3 separate regions of the Homo sapiens genome follow, and all the other regions are linked to region 1. Evidence: fine-mapped expression QTL. A gene starts in region 1. Each other region holds a variant in brackets. All regions are shown on one strand. Distances are from middle to middle. Region 1 holds the start of SNX1 (sorting nexin 1). Region 2 has its middle 2.9 kb from the start of SNX22. Region 3 overlaps SNX1 (sorting nexin 1).

The links. PIP is the estimated chance that this variant, and not a neighbour inherited with it, causes the effect. A credible set is the group of variants that fine-mapping cannot tell apart.
Region 2: its variant is the best candidate, but not a certain one, in a credible set for the expression of SNX1 in T cells (TOPMed, PIP 0.84).
Region 3: its variant is the best candidate, but not a certain one, in a credible set for the expression of SNX1 in iPS cells (iPSCORE, PIP 0.52).

Annotation. Positions count from the first base shown.
Region 1 is chr15:64,094,358-64,097,140 of GRCh38, forward strand. SNX1 (sorting nexin 1) reads left to right here and starts at 1,625. Exons shown (of 15, transcript NM_003099.5): 1 at 1,625-1,815. The coding sequence starts at 1,657. RefSeq lists enhancers at 1,609-1,728, 1,869-1,948.
Region 2 is chr15:64,147,370-64,150,217 of GRCh38, forward strand. No RefSeq gene overlaps it. Among named protein-coding and RNA genes, the nearest start is that of SNX22, 2.9 kb to the right of the region's middle. The variant C/T (reference allele first, on the strand shown) is at 1,611.
Region 3 is chr15:64,118,547-64,121,046 of GRCh38, forward strand. It overlaps SNX1 (sorting nexin 1), which reads left to right. Exons shown (of 15, transcript NM_003099.5): 4 at 242-308. Among named protein-coding and RNA genes, the nearest start is that of SNX1, 24 kb to the left of the region's middle. The variant A/AAAAC (reference allele first, on the strand shown) is at 1,191.

The DNA.
Region 1 (2,783 bases):
TGGCTTTCTCGTCTCCTAAGGGACTCAGTCCAGCACAGCTTCCCACCTTTGAACGAATATTTCTGCTAATGGCCTCCAAAGACAACTTAGAACATAAGTTTTCCCGTGTCTAATGTGTACAGTGGTGACATAATGGAGATCGCCATCCTTAAAAGTGTATCTTGGCCGGGCGCGATGGCTCACGCCTATAATCCCAGCACTTTGGGAGGCCGAGGCGGGCGGATCACCTGAGGTCAGGAGTTCGAGACCAGCCTGGCCAACATGGGCAAACCCCGTCTCTACTAAAAAATACAAAAATTAGCTGGGCGTGGTGGCAGGGGCCTTAATCCCAGCTACTTGGGAGGCAGAGGCAGGAGAATCGTTTGAACTCAGGAGGCAGAGGTTGCAGTGAACCAAGATCGAGCCATTGCACTCAAGCCTGGGGGAGAAGAGCGAGACTTCCCTCAAAAAAAAAAAAAAAAAAAAAAGTGTATCTTAAGCCCTCTGGTGTTCGTGGGTGTGATGGATGCCAGTAACAAAATCGATTTTATTTTATCCATCCATCCCTCCGATCAAATTTGTAGGTACTAATTTGCCATAGGTGATCCATAGGCATGGAAGATACAAAGATAAAACGCTGCCCCCGCCTTCAAACAGCTCACATGACCTGTGAGGGAGTCCATCCCTGAATTTGCAGTTACAACCAAACTAACTAAACCTCTTGTCAAAGTTGGTGACAAATGCCATTTCTATTGAGAAGATAGGATTATCTTGCAGAATTGTCCCATGCTAACATGCCCATTTATCTTTAAACTCCAGTCTTGTTTGTCTAGTTAATGTAGGCCTTAGGATCACCAGACAATGAATTGCTTAGGTCCCAAGGAAATTTTGGTCAGGGTTCAATAATTTCCCTGCCGTCTATTCCACTCCACTTACTCCACAGCAATTGAGAGGATAATCCTAACATTTTTCCAGCCAAATCTAGGACACTGAGGCCTCACTTCATCTGTGAGGCCTCCCTACTTCTCCAAGCAGAATTGATTATCTCTTTCCCTGTGCTCCCACAGGGCACCATAGCATTGAACATGTCGAACTGTCGATTAAATACCTGATTTCTGTATCTGAAACTCACAGCAAGGTGCCAGGCATACAGTAGATGCTCAGTATCTGTATTTCTTAATGAATTAACTGAATGTTGCTCAAGGAATAAGTGGTGAAGCTTTCTTCTAGTCTTGTTCAGATACCTCAATCGAAATATTTATTGACTCTCTGTGAGGGCATTGTGCTTGGCATGGGTAGATGGCATGTAGAGGTTTTCAAACATTTTAGTGACACTCCTTCATTCAGACGAACTCTTAGAAGCCTGTTGGATAAAGCTATCCAGAGCACAAAGGGCCCTAGAAACCTGAGCAGCCCCTAACTCCTACTTTTCTGCCCCTTTGGCCCCACTCGTTAATATCTCAGCATCGCGAACCAGGCCTCGGATTTGCTGCGCAGCCTCAGCTGGCCGGGTGCCGCCCCGCCCCCAGCGCCTAAGCCCCGCCCCTAGGTCTCCGCCCCTCGGATCCCACGGGGTCCCTTGCGGCCCTCCCACTCCTCGCACCGTTGGATCGCTTTGCTCACGGCGCTATCTCTCGATAAAGTTGTTGTTGCGGCTTCCGCCGCGGGTGGAAGAAGATGGCGTCGGGTGGTGGTGGCTGTAGCGCTTCGGAGAGACTGCCTCCGCCCTTCCCCGGCCTGGAGCCGGAGTCCGAGGGGGCGGCCGGGGGATCAGAACCCGAGGCTGGGGACAGCGACACCGAGGGGGAGGACATTTTCACCGGCGCCGCGGTGGTCGTGAGTTTGCACCCCTCGGGGTAGCAGGCGGGAGGGCACCCCGAAAGGGAAGAGAGGCTAAGCGAGAATCGGGGAGGTTGGGCAGAGTGGGCCCGGTGAGACCTTGCCTCGGTGTCAGCAGTCCGGGCCCCGGGGACCCTGGATGTGCTCGAAGCGGTAGAGCTTGGCTTCCCGGCCCCCAGGCGGGAAGAGTAAAGAATGAGGGTTGTGGTGCCTTCGTCGGCTAGCTCCCTAACAGCCGAGAACCGCCGACGCCGTCCTTTGACCCTGCAGTGTGGTGACACTCCACGGATCCACGGGGTTATTTTGCAGGTCGTGTCCTGCCAAGGCAGATTCAGTAGGACGGAATAAGCGAATGGGATGCAGACCTTTCCCCCGTCTTACTGCTTCTAAGATGAATAGCGTTATGTGGACTAGCCTGGGGTGGTGACCCGCCCACCAGTTCTTTCTTTAGCCCAGCATTTACCGATAATAACCAAAGGCCCTTTCTGGATCTTAGTTTACAAAAGTTATGTTGATTCTTCTGATCTCTAGGAAAATCAGGCCAGAGGCTGGTGGACAGAAGGCACTGCCAGATAAATCACTACATAGATCAGAAAGCTTTCTCCTTTTTAAAGGGATGTGTTCAAGTGCCCACGTACCTCACTGGGAGCAAATCTGAAATGTGATGAGGAAATGGTGTTTCCCGTAATGTTACCGGTAGGAGGCCCTTGAGTGTAGGTTGTCGAGGTTCTTGGCATTTTGAACAAATAATTGGACAAAACGCACAAAATAACAAAGGAATGAAACACAAACGAAGCAGCGAAAGCAGGAATTTATTAAAGCGAGAAAGCACCCCACAGGGTGTGAGTGGGCCGGAGCAAGGGGCTCAAGAGCCCACTTACAAAGTTTTCTGGATTTTAAGTGCTCCTTTTATGGTTCCTATGGGTTACCCCTTATCTGGATGAAGGATTTGGTCTGTGGCTAAA
Region 2 (2,848 bases), 53 kb after region 1:
GGAAGCCAGGGCCTGAGCTAAGGCAGGGTCTGTGGGCCAGCCTACCCGTGCGCAGGAATGGGGCGAGTCGGGGTACATCTTCACTCCCCAGCCCTTCCTGCCCTCTGCTCCTTGGTTCTATTTCCAAGTGGCAAACTGCCGGCTCTATGCCTGCATAGAGGAGCGAGTGGAGCCAGGCCCCCGGCGGGGCTGCTGCGGTAATCAGGAGACCGGTGCTTGCTTAGTGTGATCTCCAACCAGGAGCTTCAGGACCACCAGGGAGCTTGTTGAAGATGACCGCTTCAGGCTCCACCCCAGCCCAGCAATTAGAAAATCCAGGGCCAGGGCGGCCGGGCATGGTGGCTCACGCCTGTAATCCCAGCACTTTGGGAGGCCGAGGCGGGCGGATCACGAGGTCAGGAGATCGAGACCATCCTGGCTAACACGGTGAAACCCCGCCTCTACTAAAAATACAAAAAATTAGCCGGGCGTGGTGGAGGGCACCTGTAGTCCCAGCTACTCGGGAGGCTGAGGCAGGAGAATGGCGTGAACCCGGGAGGCGGAGCTTGCAGTGAGCCGAGATCACGCCACTGCACTCCAGCCTGGGCGACAGAGCCAGACTCCGTCTCAAAAAAAAAAAGAAAATCCAGGGCCAGGGCACTCAAATGTGAGATTTCACAGCCCTACAGGTGGTGGTGATGATTGCTAAAGTCTGAGAACTACTATAATCTAGTATTGAAATACAATCCATGTGCTAGATCGTGGTGGAGAAAAGACAAAAGCTTGTATCATAAAACAGCTCATTCTAAAAACAAGTTACTTTGAGGTCTGCACACCCATCATATAGAGTCTGGAACGTGGTGTTCATATGCTGAGCTGGCCAGCACTGAAGGCGTACAGAAAGCAAACTTTCTTTGATTGTAATAACTGCTATGGTATTTACATCATGTCATGCGTTCCTCTTTATAGGAAAATACTTGGCCGGGCACTGTGGCTCACACCTATAATCCCAGCAGTTTGGGAGGCCGAGGCAGGAGGATCAGTTGAGCCCAGGAGCTGGAGACCAGCTTGGGCAGCATAGTGAGACCCTGTCTCTATGAAACAAAACAAAACAAAAATTAGCCGGGCTTAATAATGCATACCTGTAGTCTCAGCTACTTGGGAGGCTGAGCGCTTGAGTCTGGCATGTCAAGGCTGTAGTGAGCCATGATTGTGCCACTGCACTCCAGTCTCAGCAAACGAGTGAGACCCTGTCTCAATAAATTAATACATAATTGATTTTAAAAAATTAGAAAATATTCTCCATACCTGTTTTATCTCCCCAAAGACATCTTAAATGCCTCTGTGTCAAGGATCTCGTTTTTCTTCTTTTGTACCTGCACTCTTGTGCGGTGGAACACTGTGCAATTAGGAGCTGCAGGTTCCCTATCACATGTTTGACAAGTCAGTTGCATGGAATCTCTTTCCACAACTGGTGATGAAAATCCACTGATCTGAGGCTTCCTGGAACACCTGAAAATTAAGTAAATGGAAAAAGTAGACAATGATCTGCCAAGAGAGAAGAGAGGAGAAGTGTGTTTAATTCTGGAGGTAGGAAGAAGATTCTTGTTGTCCCACCATGCAGGCAGCCT[C/T]TAACCCTTCAGCAGACGCTGCTCCTTCCCCTCCCTAGTTTTTTCTCAGCATACCCCCACTGCCCATTCATTCATATAGTCTTTCAATCACAAATATTATCCATATAGTCTTTCAACCCAAATGTTTTTGAGACACACAGTAACCAAACAATAATTGCAGACTGTAATATGTGCATAGAAAAGGTCATATGATAGGGTGGTCAAGAAGGAAGCCTCAGCTGGGTGAGGTGGCTCACGCCTGTTATCCCAGCACTTTGGGAGGTCAAGGTGGGTGCATAGCTTTAGCCCAGGAGTTCGAGACCAGCCTGGCCAACATGGCCAAACTCCGTCTCTACAAAAAATACAAAAATTAGCTGGGTGTGGTGGTGCGCACCTGTAGTCCCAGTTACTCAGGAGGCTGAGGTGGGAAAATCACCTAAGCTGCAGTGAGCCCTGTGGTTGCGTCACTGCACTCCAGCCTGGGTGACTGGAGTGAGGCCCTGTCTCAAAAAAAAAAACAAAAACAAAAACAAACAAACAAAAAAAAACCTTTTTGAGTTGAGTTTTAGGCTAAGAATTGGAGGATGAGCTCAATCCTTGAAGAGTCAAGGAAGGGTGCCCCCAGGTGGAGCAAACAGCCTAATGCAAAGGCCCTGAGGCAGGAAAGAGCTTGTCAGGTTGGAAGAGCCTAGTGCATGATGGGGAGAGGAGAGGAAATGAGGTGGAAGATGGAGGCTGGGCTGGGTTGTTTACAGCTTTGTGGATTGCATAGAGAGAGTGGGTTTTATTCTAAGTGCAGTGGGAAACATTGGAAGGTTTTAAGCACATGCCTTGATAACAGTTTGTGCTGCAGGGTAGAGAATGGACGTTCTATTGGGGATGAAGGCAGGAAAAAATGGAGACTCACAGACAGAGGGGCAGACAGTCATTAGGATGAGGACCAAGAAGTCTGAGGATCCCAGGAGAGGCCTCCCTGGACAGTGGGAGTTGGGGAGGCCCTGTAGGCCAGGGAAAGCTGGGTCCCTGAATGATGGGGCCGTAGGGAGGAAATGAAAGCACAGCACTTCTCCTCACTCTGGGCTGCTTTTCTTCTAGGGGACCCCACTAGAATCTGGGAAGTTTCAGCTTCCTGATTCTGTGGTCCTTGTGTGATGCAATTTGGAAAAAGAGAATGTGGGACATGATATTGGTGAGACCTGTTTGCCCCATTTTGGGGTCGTCATCTCAGCCCTTCTCTGGGGGCAGGGCTGGGGATGGAG
Region 3 (2,500 bases), 24 kb after region 1:
TGGCAGTTATTCATTGTCATCAAAATAAGATTTTAAGGGGATACATGTAACAAAGACTTGTAAGCTGGCTCCTAATTTAAAATTTTGAGAGTTGGTACATTGGGATTGTTGGGAATGGACAAAAGCTGAACACTGAAGGATACATCTTGATTTTATTAGATTGGTATAAGGTTATTACAGGGTAAAATTGATAGCTTTTTTTTTCATATCAACTCTCATGATTTGTCTTTTCTTGAAAAAGCTAGAGGAAGAAGAACAGGAGGATCAATTTGATTTGACAGTCGGTATAACTGATCCTGAGAAGATAGGTAAGTGGTTCTTAGGACTCCTTGTGATGTTAGGATGTGGCTGTGGAAAGCATAGGTAGCTAATTTCAGGATGGCTACCCCCAGAGTTGAACTAGCCAATGTGAAGTACTTCATTAGTATCTTTTCTGTAAAAGTAGACCCCTTGCTATGTTTCTAAGGCCAGAGACTGCTGTTACTCAATGCGTTAGTCAGTCTTTTCTTGGCTTCAGGAAGAAAAATCAGAGTCATCAAATACTACTAGAATCCCTTTTTATTTTTATTCTTTTGGTTTTTTGTTTTTTAGAGACAAGGCCTCATTTTGTCACCCAGAATGGAGCACAGTAGCACTATCATAGCTCACTATCATCTCCAGCTCCTGGACTCAAGCAGTCCTCCCGCCTGAGCCACCCCAGCCGCCCAAGTAGCTGGGACTGCAGGCACGTGCTACCATGCCGACTAATTCTTTTTTTAAGAGATGGGGTCTTGCTATGTTGCCCAGGCTGGTCTCAAACTCCTGGCCTCAAGTGATCCTCCTGCCTTAGCCTCTTAAAGCACCGAGATTACAGGCATGAGCCACCGCACCCAGCTAGAGTCTCTTTTTAAAAACCCCAACAGGCCAGCCATGGTGGCTCACACCTGTAATCCCAGCACTTTGGGAGGCCAAGGCAGGCAGATCACTTGAGGTCAGGAGTTCAGCCAGGCCAACATGGTGAAACCCCATCTATACTAAAAATGCAAAAATTGACCAGGCATGGTGGTGTGCGCCTATAATCGCACCTACTCAGGAGGCTGAGGCCAGAGAATCGCTTGAACCCGGGAGGTGGAGGCTGCAGTGAGCTGAGATCATGCCACTGCCCTCCATCCTGGGTGACAGAGCAAGACTGTGTCTTAAAAAAAAAAAAA[A/AAAAC]ACACACACACACACACAAAAAACATTATCTTCTCCTTCAGAGTTGATAAGACCATTTTACTGTCTTTTGAGATAGTAAATCCAATGTAAGCACCCTAAAAAATACATGTTCTAAAATTGAGGGACACTGAACTTATTTTTTCCCTCAAGAAGTTTGAAACTCTCATTTATACACATACTTTTGATAACCTTATGAGGTGGGGAAGTCTATCTGTGGGATCCAAGTTGAATTGTACTCAAAATTGAAGTTAGATCTTCAAAAAGCATAACACTTAACTTTGTCTGGACTTGGATTTTTAGGATGGCTTTCCCCTCTACCAAGCTTGCAAGAGTTATCCCTGAGTGGAGAACAATAGGCCTCATCTTTCCTTGTTCTAGCTATAGTCCCTTATGGAAGAGGCTATACAGAACCTGTCTTCCTAAACAGGAGTGGTGTTTATACAGTTAAGAGGACAAATGTAATTCTCAACTCTTGGTCTGTTTGGTACTAGGGACAGGAACTTGTTAGACTTTATGCCAAAATGGTTGTCTTTTTTTTTTTTTTTTTTTTTTTGAGACGGGGTCTCACTCTGTCACCCAGGCTGGAGTGCAGTGGTATGATCACAGCTCACTGCAGCCTCGACTTCCCCAGGCTCAGGTGATCCTTCCACCTCAGCCTCCTGAGTAGCTGGGACTACAGATGTGCATCACCATGCCTGGCTAATTTTTTTATATTTTTTGTAGAGACAGGGTTTCACCATGTTGCCTAACCTGGTCTCTGGCCAAAATGGTGGTCATTAAACTATTGATTTTAGGCCAGGTGCAGTGGCTTACATGTGTAATCCCAGCAGTTTGGAAGGCCAAGGCAGGAGGATCACTTGAACCCAGGAGTTCAGGACCAGCCTGCCCAACATGGCAAGACCATGACTCTACAAAAAGTAAAAAATTAGCCCTGTCTCTACAAAAAAATAAAAAATTACAGAGGCATGGCGGTACATGCCTGTAGTCCCACGTACTTGGGAGGCCGAGGTGGGAGGATCATTTGAGCCTGGAAGGTCAAGGCTGCAGTGAGCTGAGGTAATACTACTGCACTCCACGTTGGGTAACAGAGTGAGATCCTGTCTCAAAAAGAAAAAAAATTTTTTTTTAATTTGAACTGTTGAGTTTTACTTTTCCCAGACTGTTGGACTGGTAGGATGTTTTTGAGCGTCTTACACAGTTCTGTCATCTAACAGAAAAGGAAATTGAGGACCAAAAAGGAAGTAGCTTTCCTGGTAGGGCACAGTGTGGCCCATGATAGATCCTGGACCAGGACTTTGGATTATATGTCT